Linked DNA regions of Homo sapiens. The protein of the gene in region 3 interacts with the protein of the main gene of each other region in a biochemical or structural test. Each region holds a gene or a part of one and is shown on either strand. Other genes may lie near its edges.

Evidence for each region.
Region 1: of the proteins of CARD9 (region 3) and TRIM62, one has a biochemical effect on the other in vitro, tested with the Homo sapiens proteins (4 studies listed by BioGRID, with this or other methods).
Region 2: of the proteins of CARD9 (region 3) and USP15, one has a biochemical effect on the other in vitro, tested with the Homo sapiens proteins (one study listed by BioGRID).

Annotation. Positions count from the first base shown.
Region 1 is NC_000001.11:33,179,044-33,186,389, reverse strand, and holds the start of TRIM62 (E3 ubiquitin-protein ligase TRIM62), read left to right. Parts: upstream 1-4,346; 5' UTR 4,347-4,957; coding exon 4,958-5,365; intron 5,366-7,346. UniProt on the Homo sapiens protein: E3 ubiquitin ligase that plays a role in antifungal immunity by mediating 'Lys-27'-linked ubiquitination of CARD9 downstream of C-type lectin receptors; leading to CARD9 activation, followed by activation of NF-kappa-B and MAP kinase p38 pathways.
Region 2 is NC_000012.12:62,389,404-62,396,403, forward strand, and holds part of USP15 (ubiquitin carboxyl-terminal hydrolase 15), read left to right. Parts: intron 1-27; coding exon 28-111; intron 112-201; coding exon 202-296; intron 297-379; exon of another isoform or gene 380-393; coding exon 394-585; intron 586-1,460; coding exon 1,461-1,576; intron 1,577-1,753; coding exon 1,754-2,026; intron 2,027-2,412; coding exon 2,413-2,483; intron 2,484-2,852; exon of another isoform or gene 2,853-2,868; coding exon 2,869-2,984; intron 2,985-3,649; coding exon 3,650-3,799; intron 3,800-6,891; coding exon 6,892-6,995; intron 6,996-7,000. UniProt on the Homo sapiens protein: Hydrolase that removes conjugated ubiquitin from target proteins and regulates various pathways such as the TGF-beta receptor signaling, NF-kappa-B and RNF41/NRDP1-PRKN pathways.
Region 3 is NC_000009.12:136,370,670-136,378,406, reverse strand, and holds the start of CARD9 (caspase recruitment domain-containing protein 9), read left to right. Parts: upstream 1-4,737; 5' UTR 4,738-4,875; intron 4,876-6,312; 5' UTR 6,313-6,328; coding exon 6,329-6,512; intron 6,513-6,945; coding exon 6,946-7,083; intron 7,084-7,261; coding exon 7,262-7,566; intron 7,567-7,705; coding exon 7,706-7,737. Other genes in the region: SNAPC4 (snRNA-activating protein complex subunit 4), read left to right, coding at 1-864, 1,926-2,051. UniProt on the Homo sapiens protein: Adapter protein that plays a key role in innate immune response against fungi by forming signaling complexes downstream of C-type lectin receptors.

The sequences.
Region 1 (7,346 bases), on a different chromosome or scaffold from region 3:
TCTCCTTAAGGCACATCACAGCCTTCTTGTGCTTGAGAACACCAGAGAGCACTTCAGCACAATGCTTGGGGCCATTTTAAATAGCAAAATCACCAACAAAAAGGCACAAAAAATGAGAACGGTTCGCACCAAATAAGTCACAAAAAGAATACTTGTTTACACTATGACAGCTGAGACAAGAAGGCAGGGTGTCCCTTTGTTCACCTTCAGCTGGGAACATATGTGTGGGTAAGTCAAGATTTTCACCACTGCACATAAGTATGTCCACAAATAATAGCAATTGTGCCTCAAGTATTGATTTGAAGGTTACAAATAAATTTTAGAAGTAGGTGATTTTGCAAATATGGAATCCATAAATAATGAGGATCAATTTTCTTTATTTTTTCTGATTACAAAAATATATATAATAAACAGAGCTATCTAATGTAAAAGTTAAAGTCCCCCATAATCCCAGCCCACAAAAGAACACAATTAGAATATAGTTCTATAGAATTTTTGTTATGCAAATAATGCCTGTGATTGTGTCTAAGTCTGTGGGTGTCTATGTGTCAGTGTATTTGGGTCTTTCTTTTCTTTTTCTCACTCAACAATAGCTCTTGGATAGCTTTCCAGAAAAAAAAATTCCTGATGTTAATTTCTGGAGTATGAATGGAAGCAGATGGCATACACTGCAGTCAGGATCTCTAAGTCTTAGTTCAGACCACTCAACCACATCAGATGTGGAGAGAGCAATGACTTGCCAAATGTAAAGATAATCAACAGTTTTAGTGTTCTGCATCTTAATGGAGATGGAATAAGGTCAAGAGAAGAACTGCTCAGAGGATAAAAGGACTGAACACTGGGAAGTAAAGTGAAAGAGAAGAGACTGGGTCGGGCACGGTGGCTCACACCTATAATCCCAGCACTCTGGGAGGCCAAGGCAGGCAGATCACTTGAGGTCAGGAGTTTGAGACCAGCCTGGCCAACATGGTGAAACCCCCTCTCTACTAAAAATACAAAAATTAGCTTGGCGTGGTGGCGGGCACCTGTAATCCCAGCTACTCGGGAGGCTGAAGCACAAGAATTGCTTGAGGCTGGGAGGTGGAGGTTGCAGTGAGCCAAGATTGCACCACTTCACTCCAGCCTGGGCAACAGAGCAAGACTCCATCTCAAAAGAAAAAAAAAAGAGTCTGTGACTTTCAGCCAGAGAAAACCACATACTATGTCCTTTGGAGGAGATTAGACCTACATATTAAGACTATCTACTGAAAGGATTTAGACAATAGAGTAAAATAGTACCAGAGCCTCTTCTAAAAACAGCTGCAAAATTGGCTGGGCGCAGTGGCTCATGCCTGTATTCCCAGCACTTTGGGAGGCAGAGGCGGTTGGATGACCTGAGGTCAGGAGTTTGAGACCAGCCTGACCAATATGGTGAAACCCTGTCTTTACTAAAAATACAAAAATTAGCCAGGCATGGTGGTATGCGCCTGTAGTCCCAGCTACTAGGGAGGCTGAGATAGGAGAATCACTTGGACCTGGGAGGCAGAGGTTGCAGTGAGCCAAGATCATGCCACTGTGCTCCAGCCAGGGTGACAGAGCGAGACTCCATCTCAAATAAATAAATAATAAAAACAGCTGCAAAATAGTATGGAGAAAGCTGGGCTGCTGCAACAAAAGACCCAAAATACAATGGCTCTTAGAAAATAAGTTTACTTCTCACTCTGTAGTCCATGTCAGGGTGGCTGTACTTCATGCAGTCATTCAGGAACCCAGGATCCTCCCATATCTTTGCTCCATCAGCCCTTTTGAAGCATTATTGAAGCTGTGTCCCTGGTACATCTATGTTCCAACTCAAGAGAAGAGAAAATGGAGCATGGGAGAGCAAAAGCTTCATGCCTTAAGGTCTATTTCTATTTATGTTCTATTAGAAAGATTTTAGTCACCAAGTCTCACTCGGCTGCAAGAACAGCTGGGATGTATGATCTCTAGTGGACCAGCCATTCCTCCGACTGCTACTCTACTACATAGAAGAACAGGAGGATGAAGTTTAGTGGACAGCTAGCAATTTCCATCACATCTCCTTTATTTGAGCCTTGGTATCTTCCTCTATAAAACGGGGATAATAATATAAACTAGTTAAGGCTGCTTTGGGACTGAAATCCAATAATATATGTGAGAATGCTTAGCAAGCCCTACTGTGCCTGATAAGAATTTCTCATTGATTTTGCCCTCTAGACTGCCAGCTCCTTGGGAGCAAGGAGCATAGTTTATTCCACCTCCTCACAAAGACCTGCTTGGAGTCAGCATCAGTAAATACATGTTGAATAATGAAGTCACTGTTTCATCCATCATCAAGCCTTTTTTTTTTTCATTTCATTTCAAATGCTTCAATAATTTAGACTCTGCCCTGTTCACTTTCCCCACCCCCTCATTAGGGGTGCACGTCAGTATATCAGTTGGGATTCTCTGGGTTGCAAAGTGACAATGCACTACTGTTAAACTGGCTTATGCAATAAGATGGACCATCTCACATATCCTGAAGTCCAGACTCTGCATCAGAATAAAAGCTTCTCTTCCCTAGGACTCTCTTGGCCTTGCCCTCCCTTCTGTATTTGCTGCATCCTCAGACTGGGAGCAAGATGGCTGTTGCAATTCCAAGCATTGCCACCAAACATATCCCAGCAAAGGGGGCAGACTGTTTTGCAAAGTAAAGAGACCATTTCCTGAAAACCCCTCTCTGCCATAGGCTTCCCCTTTAGTTTTTCAGGCTGGACCTGCCCAAACCGTCACTGGCAAGAGGAATGAGACCACCATAATGGACTTGGACCAAACAAGACTCACTCCATGAGACCACCATAATGGACTTGGACCAAACAAGACTCACTCCTGGAAATGGGCTGGGGTCAGCCTTCCTTGGGTCACTTGGGGAAGGGGGCCACCTGACCAAAATCAGGGCTCTGCCCATAAGAAAATGTTGAGAAACTGCTGTTGCATGAGCAACCAACTATTTTTCTCGCAATGATGGAGATTCTGGGCCAGATGAGGGTGTGATGGAGAAAGTGTTAACCATAGAGAACTAAACTGAGAGCTTTTTCATAAACTGTACCTCAATAAAGTTTAACACCAATGAAGATATTTCTGGAGGAGGCAGAAACTGGTAGCCACCCTCTATGGCTCATTTCCCTCACCCCCGTATCCAACCATCACCAAATGTCACCGTGTCTGTACTTGCAATACCCTAGTCTTCTCTCCTTACCCACTGCTGAGGCCCCAGTTCGGGTCTCACCTCCTGCAGGCACGATGACAACAGCACCTTAGGGGTGCCCAGTCTTTCCTTCCTCCTGCAACCCAGGGCGTTGATGCGGTTATTCAGCTACACACCTTTACTGTGTGCTGAGTGCTGTGCATCCGCAGACACATTGGAAAAGCTCCCTGTCTTCTTCACCTTGCAGATGGTATAATGATTATCTCCAAGACTTCCTGAAACCCAATCGGACCAGGTCATTCCCTTGCCTGAAAGCCCCATGCCTTCAAGAAATTCTTTACCATGACCCACAATGCCCTCCAGCCCACCCAGGCTCCTTCTCCACCCCACCCCCAACAGTACAGAATTACTAGCACTTCCTTCACTGCGCCCTCCCCTTTCACGCCTCTATGCTTTTGCACAGGCTGTCTCCTCTGCCTAGAAATCCCTTATCCCCTCTCCATCTGGCACACAAGACAAGTTCTCCTATTACTTTTTCTCCCTCTCTCCTGCTCCACCCCTCACCGCCTTACACACACACACACACACACACACACACACACACAAATACAGCACTCCAGAATTGTTTGCCAATGGAGGCAGCCTCCGGGGCCAGATGTTAGCCAGGGCTTTCCAAACTTCTCCCCAAGCACTCCTTAAGAAAGTGAAGAGGAAATGGGACCCCAGGGCTTAGGAGTGTGAGGGCCTTGAACTCGCTCTAAGCAAGCAGGGCATTTCAAGAGTTTTATCTTTATATTTTATGCAGAAGTTGTATTCCAAATATATTCTTGTTCGTTTTAATACAAAATATGATTTTTTCTACATCTTCAAATCGATGATCCAGAAAGATGCTCCTTGTTTATTTGTTGTGCTCTCAAATTAGCTGCTCCGCCTCGCCGCGGGGACCCTAAGCGAGACCTGGATGCAGTTCCAAGTACACACCCCGAAGGAACAGCTGGGCTTCGCTTCCCTGGGAGCTGGAGGATGGTGGGGGTGGGGCGGGGTCAACCGGCTGGTGGCCCCGCCCCTCCCCCGCCCGCTGCGGGGGCGGAGTTGCTTGGGTCCCGCCCACGGGGGCGGGGAGGCAGCCGCGGCCACCGGCAGCTCGGATTCGGCTGGTTCCGGGTTGAGAGGCTGCGCTGGACCGAAGCGGTGGCTGCTAAGCTCGCGGGGGTAAGGGGTCGCGCTGGGCCAGGGTTTGGGGCCGGGATCCGGCAGCTGAGCGGGCCGGCACCCCTCCTCTTCTCTGCCGGTCACAGCCAATGTACGGCTCGGCCTGGCTGCCCCCTCCCCCAGGATTCCCCATCCCCAGCTTCTCGCCCTCCCCGCACCGCCCCCACCCCGGGATTTCGACCCCCTTAAGGGCTCCACCCCGCTCCGGGATCCCCTTCTCCCAGCTCCTATCCCTTAGGACTGCCCCGCCCCCTAGAACCTCCCCGTCAGGATCTCCGTCCCTCAGCCGCTCACAGCCTCCTCCCAGCGCCCATCGCCTTGAGCTGCCCACTACCTCTAGACTGCCCTCCCGGGCTGGCGTCCCACGGAGTCTCAGCCGCGCACCCCTTCCTCGCGTTACCCTCCTTCCGGACAGCACCCCCTCCCTTCTCCGGTAGCTCCTACCCCTGCCTGTGCGGGCCTCGTCCCCGCGCCCAGCCCTCGGTGCTGCCTCCGACAGCGCCGCGCTCTCTCAGCCGCCCCCCTGCCCCTCGGGCCCCCCTCTCTGCTGCCCCTGGCGCCATGGCGTGCAGCCTCAAGGACGAGCTGCTGTGCTCCATCTGCCTGAGCATCTACCAGGACCCGGTGAGCCTGGGCTGCGAGCATTACTTCTGCCGCCGCTGCATCACGGAGCACTGGGTGCGGCAGGAGGCGCAGGGCGCCCGCGACTGCCCCGAGTGCCGGCGCACGTTCGCCGAGCCCGCGCTGGCGCCCAGCCTCAAGCTGGCCAACATCGTGGAGCGCTACAGCTCCTTCCCGCTGGACGCCATCCTCAACGCGCGCCGCGCCGCGCGACCCTGCCAGGCGCACGACAAGGTCAAGCTCTTCTGCCTCACGGACCGCGCGCTTCTCTGCTTCTTCTGCGACGAGCCTGCACTGCACGAGCAGCATCAGGTCACCGGCATCGACGACGCCTTCGACGAGCTGCAGGTGCGCTACCCGGCCTGCCTGGGGAAGGGGCGGGGCCGGGCTGGAGGTGGGGCCGGGCGGGGGGTGGGGTCAGGGCTGGACCGCGGGCCAGGCCCAGTCAGAATGGTCCTGGGGCGGGGCCGCCAGCAAGGTCAGGGCCCTATCAGGAGTAACGCGGGGCAGGGAGGGGCGGGGCCGCCGCATGGCGGGGCCGTGGGGGCGGGGCCTTGGGCAGTCCGGACCCTGAGGGATCTGAGACAGACCTGGAGTACCGGCTGGTCCGCGGTTAGGGAGAAGTCGGGGATGCGGATGGGATGGCGGAAACAAGTGAGATCAGAACTGGACCAGATACTGGGCTGGGGCAGGGTTGTGGACGAACCGGAATCAGAGTTGGGCAAAGGCAGGGCCACTGTCAGACTGAGGGCGAGGTCGCGAGGATGGGTCTGTATTAAACCGGGTAGCTGAGCTCTGGCAGGCTGGGGGTTCTGTGGGGGCGGAGACCGGATCAGATGTGCATCAGGACTAAGAGGAGTACGGGGGCTAGAATGTGCTGGACAGGTGAGGGTGAAACCTAATAGAGTGGTATAAGTTAGGGTGCCAAAGTGCTGAGAGGGCAGGTTTGAGTACCGAGGGTTAGGCCAAGGTGTATGAGGGGTTAAGACTGAGATCAGGTCCGGATACTCTACAACAAGTTTAGATTTAAGCCAGAGTAGAGGCCAGGTTGAGTGGGGCCAGGACTTAAAGGTAAAGATTTGGAGAATAAGGCCCAGATGTAAGGTGATTCAAGAAGGGAGGGGCTAGACCTCTAGGAGTCTCTAGAGGTTTTTGATGACCTCTTTGGCTCTGTCCCCCACATCAGGACTTTTGAAGACTAAGTGAAACGGTACATGCAGAGTGACCTGAGCATAGTTGGCATAGAACTCTAATCGGTCTCCCTTAAGACTTCCTGTCTTCACTGACAAACTCCTACTCAACTTTTATTGAGCCTTGCTCAAATATCCTCTCCGTGAAGCCTTCTCCAAGTTCCACTGGTCAAACAAACAAACAAACAAACAAAAACATTAGAACTGCATTTCCCCAAATGCTCTCTATTAATAAGTGTGGGAAATATAGTATATTTTTTATACCCACCCCCTTGGAGAATTTTCAGTGTGCATTTGCATATTAAAAGCTTAGAGAAATTTTGTTGCAAATAAATCTATTTTACTGTGTTTAATAAAATGGTTCCCAAGCTTACTTGGGCCTGGAATCCTTTTTTCAAGCTAAATCACTTAAATCCAGCAGCCCCATGTACCTGGCTTTGGGATACTAGTCGAGCACGTAGTTCTCCAAGGCCAGAGACAGAATCTTATTTCTCCTATCTATGGCCCCAAAGCCTGGTGCAAGGCCTGGCCCACAGTACACACCAATAAAGGCCAAATGAATGAACGAAAGAATGACCAACCCTGGCCTAAGCTGGACCACACTGTGGAGCGTTTGGAAGCAGAAGGTTTTTGGCTCAAACATTTTATGAAAATGGAGTGGGCTAACTTGGGAGGTAATGAGCTCTCTGGCCTCGAGATACTCAAACAGAAACTAAATAATTACTTTCCCCTGTATTGTAGGGGCTCCCAACCCCTCCACACACTAGTCTTTGAGTAGGCCTGCACCCAGCAGATGCCCATGGGCCTCAGGAGAAATGGCCCATGTTCACCATCGCTCCTTCCCTGTCCCTTTTATCTCAAAACTACAACTGACTCCCTTCCAGTCTAGCTGTCTGAGGATGAAGGCCCCATCAGAGGGTGAGCAAGGGCCTGGGCCTCTGGGAGCCTGCACAAGGCTTGGCCCTCCACCCCCAGAGCCATCGTTTTAGGCGCTGCTGCTGTCCATCTCCCCGTCTATGGAGTCACATAAGCAGGAAGAGTTTGAGGGGACTCTGTCTGAAACCATCTGTCCAACCTCTTCATCATGTAGGAATGGAAAGTGAGGCCTGGAGAAGTTATGTGACTTGCCCAAGGCCACA
Region 2 (7,000 bases), on a different chromosome or scaffold from region 3:
TTCATTACAATTTTTTTTGTTTTTTAGTACAAAGTGGTTGTCCCCAAAATTGGAAACATATTAGATCTTTGTACAGCATTGTCTGCTTTGTCAGGAATACCTGCAGATAAGGTAAGATGTTTCTGGGGTTGAAGTATATAAGTTGGTATTTAGTTTCTCAGTGCTGTAAAACCAGCTTAATAGAAATTCGTTTCCTTTTAGATGATAGTTACTGATATATACAATCATAGATTTCACAGAATATTCGCTATGGATGAAAACCTTAGTAGTATTATGGAACGGGATGATATTTATGTGTAAGTATAAAACTCATTGTGCAAAATATTACTTGAAAAAAAATTAATAGAAGTAACATAAAATTTTGAGAGTTTATGGTCAGTTTTGTCCTTGTAGGTTTGAAATTAACATCAATAGGACAGAAGATACAGAGCACGTGATTATTCCTGTTTGCCTAAGAGAAAAATTCAGACACTCGAGTTATACCCACCATACTGGTTCTTCACTTTTTGGTCAGCCCTTTCTTATGGCTGTACCACGAAACAATACTGAAGACAAACTTTATAATCTCCTGCTCTTGAGAATGTGGTAAGTGCCAGACAATTCTACATTGACAAAATAAATATGGGAATAAAATATAAAATAGCTAATAAAAATAAACACATAAGGTACTATTGGAATATAATTATTCAAGTCTGTATTATCTCAATTTTGTTCATAGTCAGATTATAGTCCTAATCCACTTTCTTATTCATGTAAAACATATTATGGAGGTAATTTCAAACCCAGGAAGCACGAAGTCTGTAGCAGTTTTAAACCAAAAGTTTACAGTTAGAAGGACATAGGAATTTATGTTATAATAATTATGTGTTACATGTTCATTCTGTGAAATCATAACAAATGTCAAATGCCATATGTTTGCACTGTGAAATAACAAATGTCAAATGCTTCATTTCTTTATATACATTACCAGTTCATGATTAATAGTATTGTAAGGCAGCCTATTTTTTGCCTTCCTGAATAAATCCCTTGATTTGAATTATGAAGTTATCAAGAATGTCATTTGATCCCTTTTATCCTTGAAAGCTGGTATATTTAGTATTCTTTCTTGCATATCTAATTATTATAGTTTCATAACCCATATATAAAGATCACATTATACAAATATAAGTGTTTTTAGCAACAATATATACCATCTAAATAGGGTAAGTTGAGAAATTATTTGCAACAAACATTTAACATTTAACCTAAAAGGTAACATATTAATTATTTTTATAAAGATGAGCAAAACAAATTACTAGTCAGTTATACTTATGGTACTAAAAGTTTGAATTTATCTTTGAATCTACTAAGTGACCACTGTTACTGCATTAAAAAGTTTTGTTTTACTGATAGAAGGAAAACTTTTTAAAAGTTTTTATCTTTGTAGTACTGAACTTGTTTGATTTTTGATTTTACTTAAGCCGATATGTCAAAATATCTACTGAAACTGAAGAAACTGAAGGATCCCTACACTGCTGTAAGGACCAAAATATTAATGGGAATGGCCCAAATGGCATACATGAAGAAGGCTCACCAAGTAAGACTTTTCTGTTAAATTGTACAAATGTTTCACTTAGATAATTGCCTCAGAGAAAAAGTTAAGAAAATGGGAATTAAAGAACTAAAAAATACCTGGAAACCTAGGATTAATAATATTAATAATTTAAAAATATAGCATTGGGTTTATTTAAAGCTCTCTAATATCTAAAATTAGGTGAAATGGAAACAGATGAGCCAGATGATGAATCCAGCCAGGATCAAGAACTTCCCTCAGAGAATGAAAACAGTCAGTCTGAAGATTCAGTTGGAGGAGATAATGATTCTGAAAATGGATTATGTACTGAGGATACTTGCAAAGGTCAACTCACGGGACACAAAAAACGATTGTTTACATTCCAGTTCAACAACTTAGGCAATACTGATATCAACTACATCAAAGATGATACCAGGCATATAAGATTTGATGATAGGCAGCTTAGGCTAGATGGTAAGTATTTGTGAAAAATGGCTTGAACATTAAACAAGCCGAGCATGTTATTTTTTTTTTAGGTGAAAACCATGAAATTCAGCTCTGTCAAGAAATATACCATTTACTTTTCTATCTCAAATTTTACATGAAAGGACTTAATATCTAAGTAGACTAAAATGTGTGTTTGTGTTTCATAAATGGAGATTGAACTCATGCTTCAGTTTTCTATCTTTTTTTAAACTCTTAAATTATTTCAATGGCTTGGAAACTGCTGTTTGCCCTAATCACCAGTACAAGTAGAAAAGATTGCTGTTTGTTTATTCTGGTGTATATCCTAACATTAAAATATACTTTAATACTAAGACATATTAAATTTTAAAGAAAAAATATGTTTTCCACCTTAGAAAGATCTTTTCTTGCTTTGGATTGGGATCCTGATTTGAAAAAAAGATATTTTGATGAAAATGCTGCTGAGGTAAGTCATCACTCACTCACTTATTTACCTTTCCTTGATTTACTTTATGTGATTACCAGAGATAATCATACTGTTGTGTTACACTCTTTGCTTCCACCAAATATGTTTATTTTGCCAGTAAAAAATTGGTCATGAACTAGAAAAAAAAGTCTTTGCAAAAATACCTTTTTTTTTTAAAGGTTCAGAGTTCATTTTGAACGTGTTTTGGTCATCCATATAGAAGTGTACAGGAATTATTTAGAAGTATATAAATCTCAACTGAAATAAGCTTTATGATTCTTTTGAGAAAGTTTAGGAGTTTTCATTATTATTCATAGTAAGATGGTATCACTAAAATGAGTTTTGTTTCATTTGTTCTCTTAACTCAAGAAATACTTCTCTTTAGGACTTTGAAAAACATGAAAGTGTGGAGTATAAACCTCCTAAAAAACCCTTTGTGAAATTAAAAGATTGCATTGAACTTTTTACAACAAAAGAAAAGCTAGGTGCTGAAGATCCCTGGTAAGAGACAAAATTAAATAATTGTTTTTGTTTTCTTTAAGGATTTATTCTGAGATATGTGCCACATCAAGTTGAAAAAGTAATTACTAAATTCTCTTTGATGTTTTAAATAGTAAAGGATTCTTTATATAAGTTGTAGCCTATTAAGAGGGATGGGAATGTCTTAAAAAATACGATTACAGTGTTGCCTTAATTTTATTACTGTGTTTTTCATAATAGCCATTATACTATTAATTCATTTTAGTTACCTTTTTTCCAAGAAATTTTAGCTATGTAATCATTTTGAGAGAAGCTTTTTAGGAAAAATGTAGTGATATATTTTGTGGTGTTATTCCATTAGAGCCCAGATTTGAGATTTTCTAATACCTGTCTTCCAGCACAGATTTGTGACCTATGTCTTTTTTGCATACTAAAAGAGAAATAATCTAGCCCTCATTATGTCTTTAAGTATTTATTTGTATATTAATTTGTAATGGTTTAACCTATTTGGAAAATGTCTTGAAAATAAAAATAATAAGAGTTGCTTTCAACCTGGTACATATTAGGCATACTATAATTGCCCACTGAATAAATGTAGAACTTTCCAAACATTTTTGTTTATTATTTTCATTAATGGGGGTTGTTTGTACCTCTATCAAGTGTTAAATACTTCTGTTTATTCTTAGGTATTGTCCGAATTGTAAAGAACATCAGCAAGCCACAAAGAAATTGGATTTATGGTCCCTGCCTCCAGTACTTGTAGTACATCTCAAGCGATTTTCTTACAGTCGATACATGAGAGACAAGTTGGATACCTTAGTTGATTTTCCTATCAAGTAAGCTTTAATTGTACTTTATAAGCATTGGGCAACTCTTCTTTCAAACTTATTTGATGCTTTTTGTTATTATCCTTTAGTAAACATCAGGTGCCATTGGACCCAATTTCAGCTTTCAAGTTTGTTTTTGAGTAGTTCTAACAGTTTATAAGGATCAGTGTTTCAAAATTTTTATTTTTTCTTAGAGATTTTCCAAAGATCAAAGAGAAAATATACTTTAAAAAAATAAAAACAATAAAAATCCTTCTGTGTTATATTACCTATGGGTTAATTGGTCTCATTTATAAATCTAAGATACTTTATGGTACTTAGTGATTTTGTTTATCCTAGGAATTACTTCATCATTACTCATCACTTACTCCTAAATATGTTGGGGTTTTTTGGTGTTTCTTTTGTTTGTTTTTTGAGACAGGGTCTCACTCTGTTGCCCAGGCTGGAGTGCAATGGTGCAATCTCGGCTCACTGCAACCTCCACCTCCTGGATTCAGGTGATTCTCCTGCCTCAGCCTTCCAAGTAACTGGGATTATAGCCACCCGCCATCATGCCCGGCTAATTTTTAGTACAGACGAGGTTTCACCATATTGACCAGGCTGGTCTCGAACTCCTGACCTCAAGTGATCCACCCGCCTTGGCCTCCCAAAGTGCTGGGATTACAGGCATGAGCCACTGTGCCCAGCCCTAAATATGCTGTTTTCAAAAAGACTAAAATAAAACAACAATGGAATTGCTTAGAAGGATAACACAGTAGTGAAATAAATCATCCCTATTGCATTATCCTTCAGTTTTCCTATTGCCATTATATGACATCATATTTGTAAAAAGATATATCTATGGCCATACCACCTTGAACGTACCCTGATCTTGTCTGTAAAAAGATACAAAGAAGTCTGTATACATCTTCACACTTTATCTCTCTTTTTTTCTTCCCCTGCTTTTAACAGTTGAGAATTCAGAATGACAAAAAGGGAACATTGTATTCCCCGTCACTTAGTTATTCAGCAGAAGGACTTCATCACACAATATTTTGTACAAGTACTTGGTACTATCCCATTTTGCAAAAAGAACTTTCAGCGGTATTATTTCATATCCTGTGATATTTGTACACCAAAATGTACTTGATACAGTTAGTAAGTAGACAATTGCTAAAGGCAGGTGTATCTATAAAGGTAACTAGAAGGAAATAGATTACATAAAACAAAATATTCACTGGATTACTCATTCTAATTGGTGGCTATAAATTTAAAATTTAAAATTATTTGTAATTATTGAGTGAAAAAAAGATCATTTTCTCTTTAACAAAATAGTGAGCCATAAGTTTTCAAGAATATAGCATTTGGCAATGTAAGTATAAGAAAAAGAATCAGGGCTGGGCACAGTGGCTCACGCCTGTAATCCCAGCACTTTGGGAGGCCGAGGTGGGTGGATCACAAGGTCAGGAGAGCAAGACTATCCTAGCCAACGTGGTGAAACCCCATCTCTACCAAAATTCAAAAACATTAGCCGGGCATGGTTGTGCGCGCCTGTAGTCCCAGCTACTCGGGAGGCTAAGGCAGGGGAATCGCTTGAACCCAGGAGGCGGAGATTTCAGTGAGCTGAGATCGCGCCACTGCACTCCAGGCTGCCTGGCGACAGAGCGAGACTCCCTCTCAAAAAAAAAAAAAAAGAATCAGAAGTAATGACAAACTAGAATCTATCAGAGATGTATTTAAAATTTAGAATCATTATTGCTTTTTAATGATGCAAATACAAGAAGAACAACCAGAAATAATAATAAGCTATTTACAAGAAGTCGTTTTCCAGGTTCTTGAATGATAGATTTTGATTAGTCAGTTACATTCAAAGGATGTTGCCCATTTCGGGTATATAGGTCATCAAAGACAGCAAATGTAGAATAAAAATTAAGGTTTGATATATTAATATTTTTTAAAACTTCTAAGGAAGTTTTCACTATTCCTGTATTTTTCTTCATATAAATCACTTCCTCTTTTTTAATCTCTGACCCTGCCCATAAATTACTTTCTAAAATTGACTGTAAAATAAAGATCTACTGGACCCAGATGGTCAATAGTGATGACTGTTTTTCCTGGTATACTGAGAGTTAAATGTGTTAGCATGAAAACGTTTATCTGAATGACAACATTCCACATTTTTATTTTATTTTATTTTTTTATTTTTGTGGGTACATAGTAGGTGTATATATTTGTGGGGTACATGAGATGTTTTGATGGAGTGTGAAATAGTCACATTATGGAGAATGGGGTATCCATCCTCTCAAGCGTTTATCGTTTGTGTTATAATCCAGTCACACTCTTAGTTATTTTTAAATGTATAATTAAGTTATTATTGACTATAGTCACCCTGTTGTGTGATCAAATAGTATGTTTTATTCATTCGTTTTTTTTTTTAACCCGTTAACCATCCCCACCTTACATCTCCCCTACCTTCCCACCACACTTGTCATCCTCTAGTAATCATCCTTCTACTCTGTCTGTCTATGAGCTCAATTTTTTTTTATTTTTAGATCCCACAAATGAGAACATGGGATGTTTGTCTTTCTGTGCCTGGCTTATTTGATTTAACATAATCTCCAGTTCCATCCATGTTGTTGGAAATGGCAGGATCTCATTCCTTTTTATAGCTGAATAGTACTTCATTGTGTATATGTACCAGATTTTCTTTAGCCATTTATCTGTTGATAGACACTTAGTTCCATCAACATTGCAACACATAGTTTCGTCAAATCAACAAGATTTGGTTGTTTCCAAATGTTAGCTGTTGTGACCATTGCTGCGACAAACATGGGGAGTGCAGATATCTCTTCAGTATACTCAATGAAGCATTTTAAAATTTTCAACCCATAAACAAATGTTTGCCAAAACATTAATATCTCAGAGGTACATGTATGATTTGTTTTGTAAGTTATTTGACTCATGATAATTTCCTTAGTGAGATATATATATATATAGATAGATATATATAGATGGATAGATATAGATATATATATGTATGTCAAACAACAATGGCAGAAGGGAATAGAATTCATTGCATTTAGGGACAACATAAAAATTAACTTGGTTTCTTTTTTAAACAGTGACTTGGATATGTCGGAATTCTTAATTAATCCAAATGCAGGTCCTTGCCGCTATAATCTGATTGCTGTTTCCAACCACTATGGAGGGATGGGAGGAGGACACTGTAAG
Region 3 (7,737 bases):
AACAGGGAACCGGAGCCTTCCTGCAGGACAGACACCCCAGCTCCTCCCACACACGCCCTCTCCCAAAGTCCTGCAGAAGCGGATGGCAGTGTGGCCTTTGTCCCTGGAGAGGCCCAGGTGGCCAGGGAGATACCTGAGCCCAGGACGTCCTCCCACGCTGACCCTCCTGAAGCAGAACCCCCTTGGTCCGGGAGGCTGCCAGCCTTCGGTGGTGTCATCCCAGCAACTGAGCCAAGGGGGACGCCGGGGTCCCCCTCAGGGACACAGGAGCCCAGGGGGCCTCTGGGCCTGGAGAAGCTGCCCCTGCGCCAGCCTGGGCCTGAGAAGGGGGCCCTGGACCTGGAGAAGCCGCCCCTACCCCAGCCTGGGCCTGAGAAGGGGGCCCTGGACCTGGGCCTGCTGTCCCAGGAGGGCGAGGCGGCCACACAGCAGTGGCTGGGGGGCCAGCGGGGGGTGCGTGTGCCTCTTCTGGGCAGCAGACTGCCCTATCAGCCCCCAGCCCTGTGCAGCCTGCGAGCTCTGTCCGGTCTCCTACTCCACAAGAAGGCCCTGGAGCACAAGGCCACCTCCCTGGTGGTGGGGGGCGAGGCTGAGCGGCCGGCCGGAGCACTGCAAGCCTCACTGGGGCTGGTGCGGGGGCAGCTCCAGGACAACCCGGCCTACCTCCTGTTGCGGGCGCGGTTCCTGGCAGCCTTCACCCTCCCTGCGCTCCTGGCCACCCTGGCCCCCCAAGGCGTCCGCACCACCCTCTCAGTACCTTCGAGGGTGGGCTCTGAGAGTGAGGATGAAGACCTCCTGAGTGAGCTGGAACTTGCAGACAGGGACGGGCAGCCGGGCTGCACGACAGCCACATGCCCCATTCAGGTAGGGTGGGCGCCCAGCCCCACTTCCCCATGGCAGGCGGCGGTCCCTGGGGTGCCCTCGCCTGCCTGGAGCAGTGGGGTGGGGGCTGGTGGAAGTTGCGGGCAGGAAGGCTGGCTGCTGGGTGTCTTAGGAGGAGGAAGCTGGTTCCTGGCCTGCCCAGTTGCGTGTAGATTCTGCAGAAGTGGCCTCCCTTTGGGGCAGTGTGGAAAAGGGGAGAAGAGAGGCCTCATTCTCGTGCAGGAGCCTCCGGCCATCCTGATGCTGCCCAGCCAGGTGGCCTTGTCTGAGCGAGAAGCTCTGGGATGGACGCTGACCCGGCTCTGAGCCGCACACGCCACACACACGTGTGCTCCCAGGGTGGGCCATGGGCACAGTGGAGGGTGGTGGCTGTGTTTGTCTCTGGATTTCTGGGGTCCCAAAGGTCCCTCTCTGCTGTCACCTCTCTGAGTGTCCTTGGGGAGAGTTTTCCAATCTCTGTAGGTGAAACCATGTTTGGAACCCTGGAAAGCATGTGGAGCTGGGGCCCCCAGAGAGGCCTCCTCCCCTGGTGCCAGGGTGCCCACTTGCAGCAGCTGGGAGGCTGGCCTCCCTGAGAAACCACCAGAAGCAGGCAGCCTCAGCTGGACCTGTGGGCCTGTCATAGGGAGTGTGGCAGAGGGCCTTCCATCTCTCCCCAGGGTTGTGTCTCGCAAGTCCCTGGGCTGAAGTGTGGGAGGAAGCAATGTCCAAGAGTTGGGGAGGACCCCGGCCAGCCAGGGGAAGAGGCCCTCTGTGCCCCATCCATGTACAGCCTCCTGCCCTGCCTGGGTGTGATGGCTGTCCCATGGGGGAGTGGGAGGCCCACCAGAGGGATGGCTTGGATGGGGTCAGAGCCCCCGAGGGAGGGAGTGCACAGTCACGTGTGGCCCCAGGAGTGCCTGGAGCAGCTCCCGCCTGAGCTGAGGGTGCCCTGTCCCAAGTGGGACACTCACCCACAGGGCCCCTCCTCACTCCCGTCCCTTCCCCGTCCATCATGGCTCGGGGGTGTCACTCTTGTCCCCACTGCCTGGATTTTCTTTCAGGGAGCCCCAGACTCTGGTAAATGCTCTGCTTCCTCCTGCCTGGATACTTCTAATGACCCTGACGACCTGGACGTGCTCAGAACCCGGCATGCCAGGCACACCCGGAAGCGGAGGCGGCTGGTGTGAGCAGCAGGTGAGTCCTGAGTGGGGAGGCCACTGCCCTACAACCCAGGGGACAGAGTGGTGTCCAGATGGCAGGGGGCCTTGGCCTCTGCTCGGCTCTTTGGCGCTCACAGCAGGTGTGCTGGGTTAGGTGGGCAGGTCCAGGGTCATGGAGGCCCTCCAGGGGGAGAAGCATTTAACCCACATCCTTCCTGCTGGCCACCCATGCCTCGGGCCTTGGCACCACTGTGCCCCTGACCATAGGCTCATTCCCTGCCTTTGGGGTCTGGGCTCCTCCCTGGCCGCTGTGCTCTGGTGGTGCCCTGTTCCCGTGCATTGCTGCGTCGTCTCCCAGCTTGTAAAACGATCACCATCCCCAACCGCAGCCACCAGGCTGGCTCTTCACTGCTGGAGCCCTGGTGCCCTGGCCTGGCCCTTGGCGCATGTGGGTCAGGTTTACCAAGCAGACTGGGCGTGGCCGGCGCTGGGGTGGTCTTGGTTCCTGTTTGTCTGTCCCAGCCCTGCTTGGGGTCTGGCTGGGGTCAAGGGCACCCCCCACCTGGTGTTCCTGTGTTCCAGGACAAGCACTTTCTCAGAAGCCCGTGGCCCTGCTGACGAGAGACAGCCCACCCCCAGCCTGCAAGAGAGGCAGCCAGAGGCCAGGTATCTGCTGGCCGCTGACTGACCAGGTCCGCAGTGAACAGAGGCGGGCCTGCCGACTGACTGTGTGGCATGGAGCATGGCTGTTCCCCAAGTGCACACCTGAACACTTGGAGGAATAAAGTTCTGTTTTTAATTGTGGAGCTGGACACAGGCTGTTGTGGTTTTGTTGTCCTGAGGTACCGGGCAGTGTACAGGGACCCCCCACCTGGCTGGGGTCAGGCTGCTGCCTAGTGGCTGAGCCACCCTAGTGCAGGCAGTTCGGGAACAAGCAGGGTGCTGGGGGCCCAGAGCTGGGGTCCTGGAAGGCCTCCCGTACCCCGGCTGCCCTCCTGTCAGAGAAGCAGGCTTTCTTTCGCCCATTTCCTGGAAAGCATCTGTGGCTTTGTCCTTCAGGCTAGCCGGCACCCTCCCCAGATGGCTGCCAGCCCTCGCGCTGCCCTGGCTGACCCAGGGGGTTCCCTGGAACAGATGACCTGGCTACCCCGACACGGCGGCAGCCCCCACCCTCCACTGTTCCTTTTGCATGGGCCTTTATTGGCATAAGACTAGCCCCCATCTTCTCCGTCTGTCCCCTAGCTCCCTTTCCTTTGTCTCTGTGGCAGCAGCGCCCCCAGGCCCTTGGCTATCTGGGCTTCGATCCTTCACTGGAGCCACTGTGGGGCCTCAGCCCTGGGCACCTGGCAGACGGGACGGTCCCATGGCCGACCTCACTCCTGAGTATGTGTTGCTGTGCCTGGTTCTCTAGTCTGGTGCCTAGTCTGGGGGCCACTCTGATCTGTGGGTTATTTAGCGGTATATTATTTAATTTCCAAATATTTAGAGATTTTGCCGATATCTGTTACCGATTTTTAGCTTCCGATATGGTTAGAGAACATGGTATGTGTGTTCACTCCTAAGGACACACACCACAGGGAAGTCACTAAGGTCCGCGTTTTAAACGCTGGGGAAACACTGGGTCATGAGGGCCTGGTGCCAGCTCCGGTTCGCTCCCTGGCAGGGCCCAGGATGGCCCCGGCCTGCACACTCGCTCATGTTGATGGTGAGGGGTCCAGCAGGGGCACGGCCCCCTGGAATGTGGCATTCCCGAGAGCCCAGGAGGACCCCTAACTGTCCGCTCCTTAATGTGTGATGTCAGACGTTGTCCGCACAGAGGCCTGAGGGCTGGAGGCTGAGAACGGTTAGGCAAGCTCCACACCAGCTTCCTTGCCTTCCAGCCTGGCGGCCCCTTCTCGAACCTGTTGGGTGGCAACTCAGTTCAACCAGCTTTACCGGGTGAGGCGGGGCCTGGGGGTTCCCAAGCCTGCAGGGATGAGGCTCTGGCAGCCCACACGCTGAAGTGCACAGTTCAGGGCAGACTCTGCTGTCCGTTGTCCCTGGATGGGGGCCGAGCTGTGCCCTGCTGTCACCGGCTCTTCTGAAGCTGGTTTGGGGGACCCCGAGAGTGGCCTCAGTCCTCACATGCATCCTGGTGGAGAGCAGGGATGCCTCATGATGGGGATAACGAGGATAACGACACTTCTGGAAGGGACGTTTCTCCCCCGTGTGCAGCTGGGTGGTGGCCGATGCCATGGCCCCTGGCAGGCTGCTGTGGCCTCCTGGGCTCCATAAGGTGGGCTGCAGCCCTTCTGTGACCAAGGCGTGTGCTGGCCATGCCGTGTGGCTGTGTGCCCCCCTGCACATGCCCTGCCCCGCTGTCCTGAGATGCTGGCGAGGGCGAGGGTGTTCGCACAGAGCAAAGCATGCCTTACTGAAGAAGTCTCCAGAAGCCTGTGACCAGGTCAAAGTGGCTGGGTGCGGGCTGGCCTTGTCCAGCCCCCTGGGGGTCTCTGCTGTCTCTTCTACTTGCCAGGTGCCAGGGCTGGGCCTCTGGGGCATCCCCAGGACCCCCAGCCCCCGGCCAGGCTGGGAGGGCTGGGAGCAGCTTTCCTCTGGAGGGCAGCGGACTTCCACTTCCGTCTGCCTCTTGGGGCCTCCTGGGCTGGGCGAATCAGAAAGCAGGTCACCAGGGACTGTCCCCCTGTGGGAGGACTGGCGGGACTGTGGAGTTAAGCAGAACCCATCAGGAAGTGCACAGGCGTCCGGCGTGCTCCTCCCTCCCTGCAGCCCCGGGCAGCATCTCCCAGAGGCTCCGCGGCCCAGGCTCCTGGTGTGTCTGCAGTGCAGGTGGCTCCTGGAAGACCCTCAGGTGGGTGGGTCTGGTGCTTTCTGAAAGGTGGCCAGGAAGGTTGGCGTTGGCCTAGTTCAGGATCCTGGCACTGATCCCCCAGAGCAGCCTGAGGCTTCCCACAGGCAGCCAGGCAGCCTCCGCCATGCGGCCCCGTCCCTTTCACGGCCCCTGGGCGGAGATGTGTTCATTTCAGTGGAATTACGGTGGCAGATGGGACCCTGCATTTCAAGCTGGGGAAGCAGGAAAGGGGCCCAGTGTTCCCAGGACTGTCTACCGTGTGGCCAGTGTTTTTATTCAGTCCCTTGTCTGTCAAAACTGTCCTGAATGGGGTGACAAAGTGCAGCGGGAAGTTGAGAAATGCCTCAAAAGACCAAGCCTGGGGCAACTATGTCTCCAGGAGCAGTGACCCAGCTCCTCTGGGCTGGAAACCAGCGTTTCCCAGCGGGGCTGGAGGCTGTCTGAGGACCACGTGGCTGCTCCCAGCCTTGCCGCAGTCCCAGTCTCAGAGGGAGTGGCTTTCAGCGGCTGAGGCCCCCACCATGCTGGCAGAAAGGGACAGCAGTGGCTGGTCCCAACATGGGTAGTTCTGTTGCAGCCACTGGGATGGGGGCCGGGCCTCATCTGGGGCAGGAGAAGAGTCCAGGGATTCACTGGTGCCCGGCACCTCAACCTGGAGAAAACACCGCAGCAGCACTCCTGGCCAGCCAAGGGCAACACTGACAGCCCCTCCCAGGGTTGCGGGGCCGGCAGGGGGTGACAGAGACACGCTCCTGTGGGCAGCTCTTCCCGGCCAGTGCAGCGACCCCGCAGCTGCAGCAGGGCTGGGTGGCCACTCTTGCATCATCAGCAGCCGGCCGTGGAGGAGGGAGGGCACAGCCAGGGATGTGAGCAGGCGTCGGTCAGGGGAATGAGGAAGTCCCACAAGAACCGGCTCCCCCAGCTGCTGTGCTGGTGGGAGGGCCACTGGCCAACCTGCTCTCACCCAGCTTGGGCTGGCCATAGTGCCAGGCAGTTGCCCTCAGCTCCTCTGCCCATTCCAGCCATGGAGGTGGCTAACCTTGCAGGCTCCAGGGCGTGATGGGAGTGTCCAGGAGGCAGAGGCCAGAGGGGGTCATGCTGTAGGGGGAGTTCCTCTCTCAGACCCCATCTGTGCCTCCCCCGCTGCGTATCTGGGTGACATGGATGCCAACGGGCAGGAGCAAGGGCTGGGAAAGGCTGCGGAGGGGCCCTCGGCTGGTCTGGTGGGGAGCGGGGTCACTGTGTCTCTGCTGCCTCCCTGGGGGATCCAGCGTGGGGATGGGACATGGAGCTGGGCACCTCTCCTGGATGCCCCTGGGCTGATCCCCCTCGATGCCCTGACGAGAGCCCTGGCCCAGCGTCTGAGAAGGAGTGGGAGCTGGGCCCGGGTGGGGGCAGGAGCCGGCATCGCTCTCAGCACTGCCCCACACTCCCCAGCCTGCCTGCTGAGGCCATGTCGGACTACGAGAACGATGACGAGTGCTGGAGCGTCCTGGAGGGCTTCCGGGTGACGCTCACCTCGGTCATCGACCCCTCACGCATCACACCTTACCTGCGGCAGTGCAAGGTCCTGAACCCCGATGATGAGGAGCAGGTGCTCAGCGACCCCAACCTGGTCATCCGCAAACGGAAAGTGGGTCAGTGTTGCCCCGCGGGCCCCAGGCCCCAAACCCAACCACAGAGTCAGCTCGGAGGTGGCTGCACGCTCTGCCACCCTGACCCTCAACCCCAGGAGAGCCCCGCCTGGCTTTGCCCCTGGCCTCTGACTGAGGCCCAACCTCAACCCTGGCACGTGGCCCGTCCCCCAGCCTCTCCTGCCGGCTTGGTGCTGCCAAGAGGGGCAGCGGGGCTCCCACCGCAGCGGGGGCTCCTGAGACAGCCAAGGGGCGGGTGGGCAGCACTTGGTCCCCAGCCTAGTACCAAGACCCGCAGGGTACCTCATCCAAGACCCAGACCACGGCACACCTCATCTGCATGCCAGCCTCCACCTGTCCCTGCCCCCAGGCCCACCCACCCCAGCCCTCTGCCTCGCCTGTGCCCCGCCCCCAGTTAGGCCTCTCTGGCCCGCAGGTGTGCTCCTGGACATCCTGCAGCGGACCGGCCACAAGGGCTACGTGGCCTTCCTCGAGAGCCTGGAGCTCTACTACCCGCAGCTGTACAAGAAGGTCACAGGCAAGGAGCCGGCCCGCGTCTTCTCCATGATCATCGGTGAGTGACGGGGGAGGCGGGGCCGACAGGGGAGGCGCTGGCGGGGAGCGGGCAGTGGTGTTGGGTCCTCTGCCTGGCCCCCATCCCTAGGAGCCCTGAGCTCCTGCCACAGCGCAGGGCGTGATGGAGCTGGGCCACCGGGGAACACGGCACCATCTGACACTGGCCTGGCCCACAGACGCGTCCGGGGAGTCAGGCCTGACTCAGCTGCTGATGACTGAGGTCATGAAGCTGCAGAAGAAGGTGCAGGACCTGACCGCGCTGCTGAGCTCCAAAGATGACTTCATCAAGGAGCTGCGGGTGAAGGACAGCCTGCTGCGCAAGCACCAGGAGCGTGTGCAGAGGCTCAAGGAGGAGTGCGAGGCCGGCAGCCGCGAGCTCAAGCGCTGCAAGGAGGAGAACTACGACCTGGCCATGCGCCTGGCGCACCAGAGTGAGGAGAAGGGCGCCGCGCTCATGCGGAACCGTGACCTGCAGCTGGAGGTGCGCCCGCTGCCCCCGGGAAACCAGGCCACCCTCGCCTGGCCTGGCGGGGTCTGCAGGCCGGGGCGGTCGGGGGTGGCCCCACGGGTCTGCGGTCACCGCCTGGAGGGGACAGCCAGGCTCACTGGACCTTCTGCAGATTGACCAGCTCAAGCACAGCCTCATGAAGGC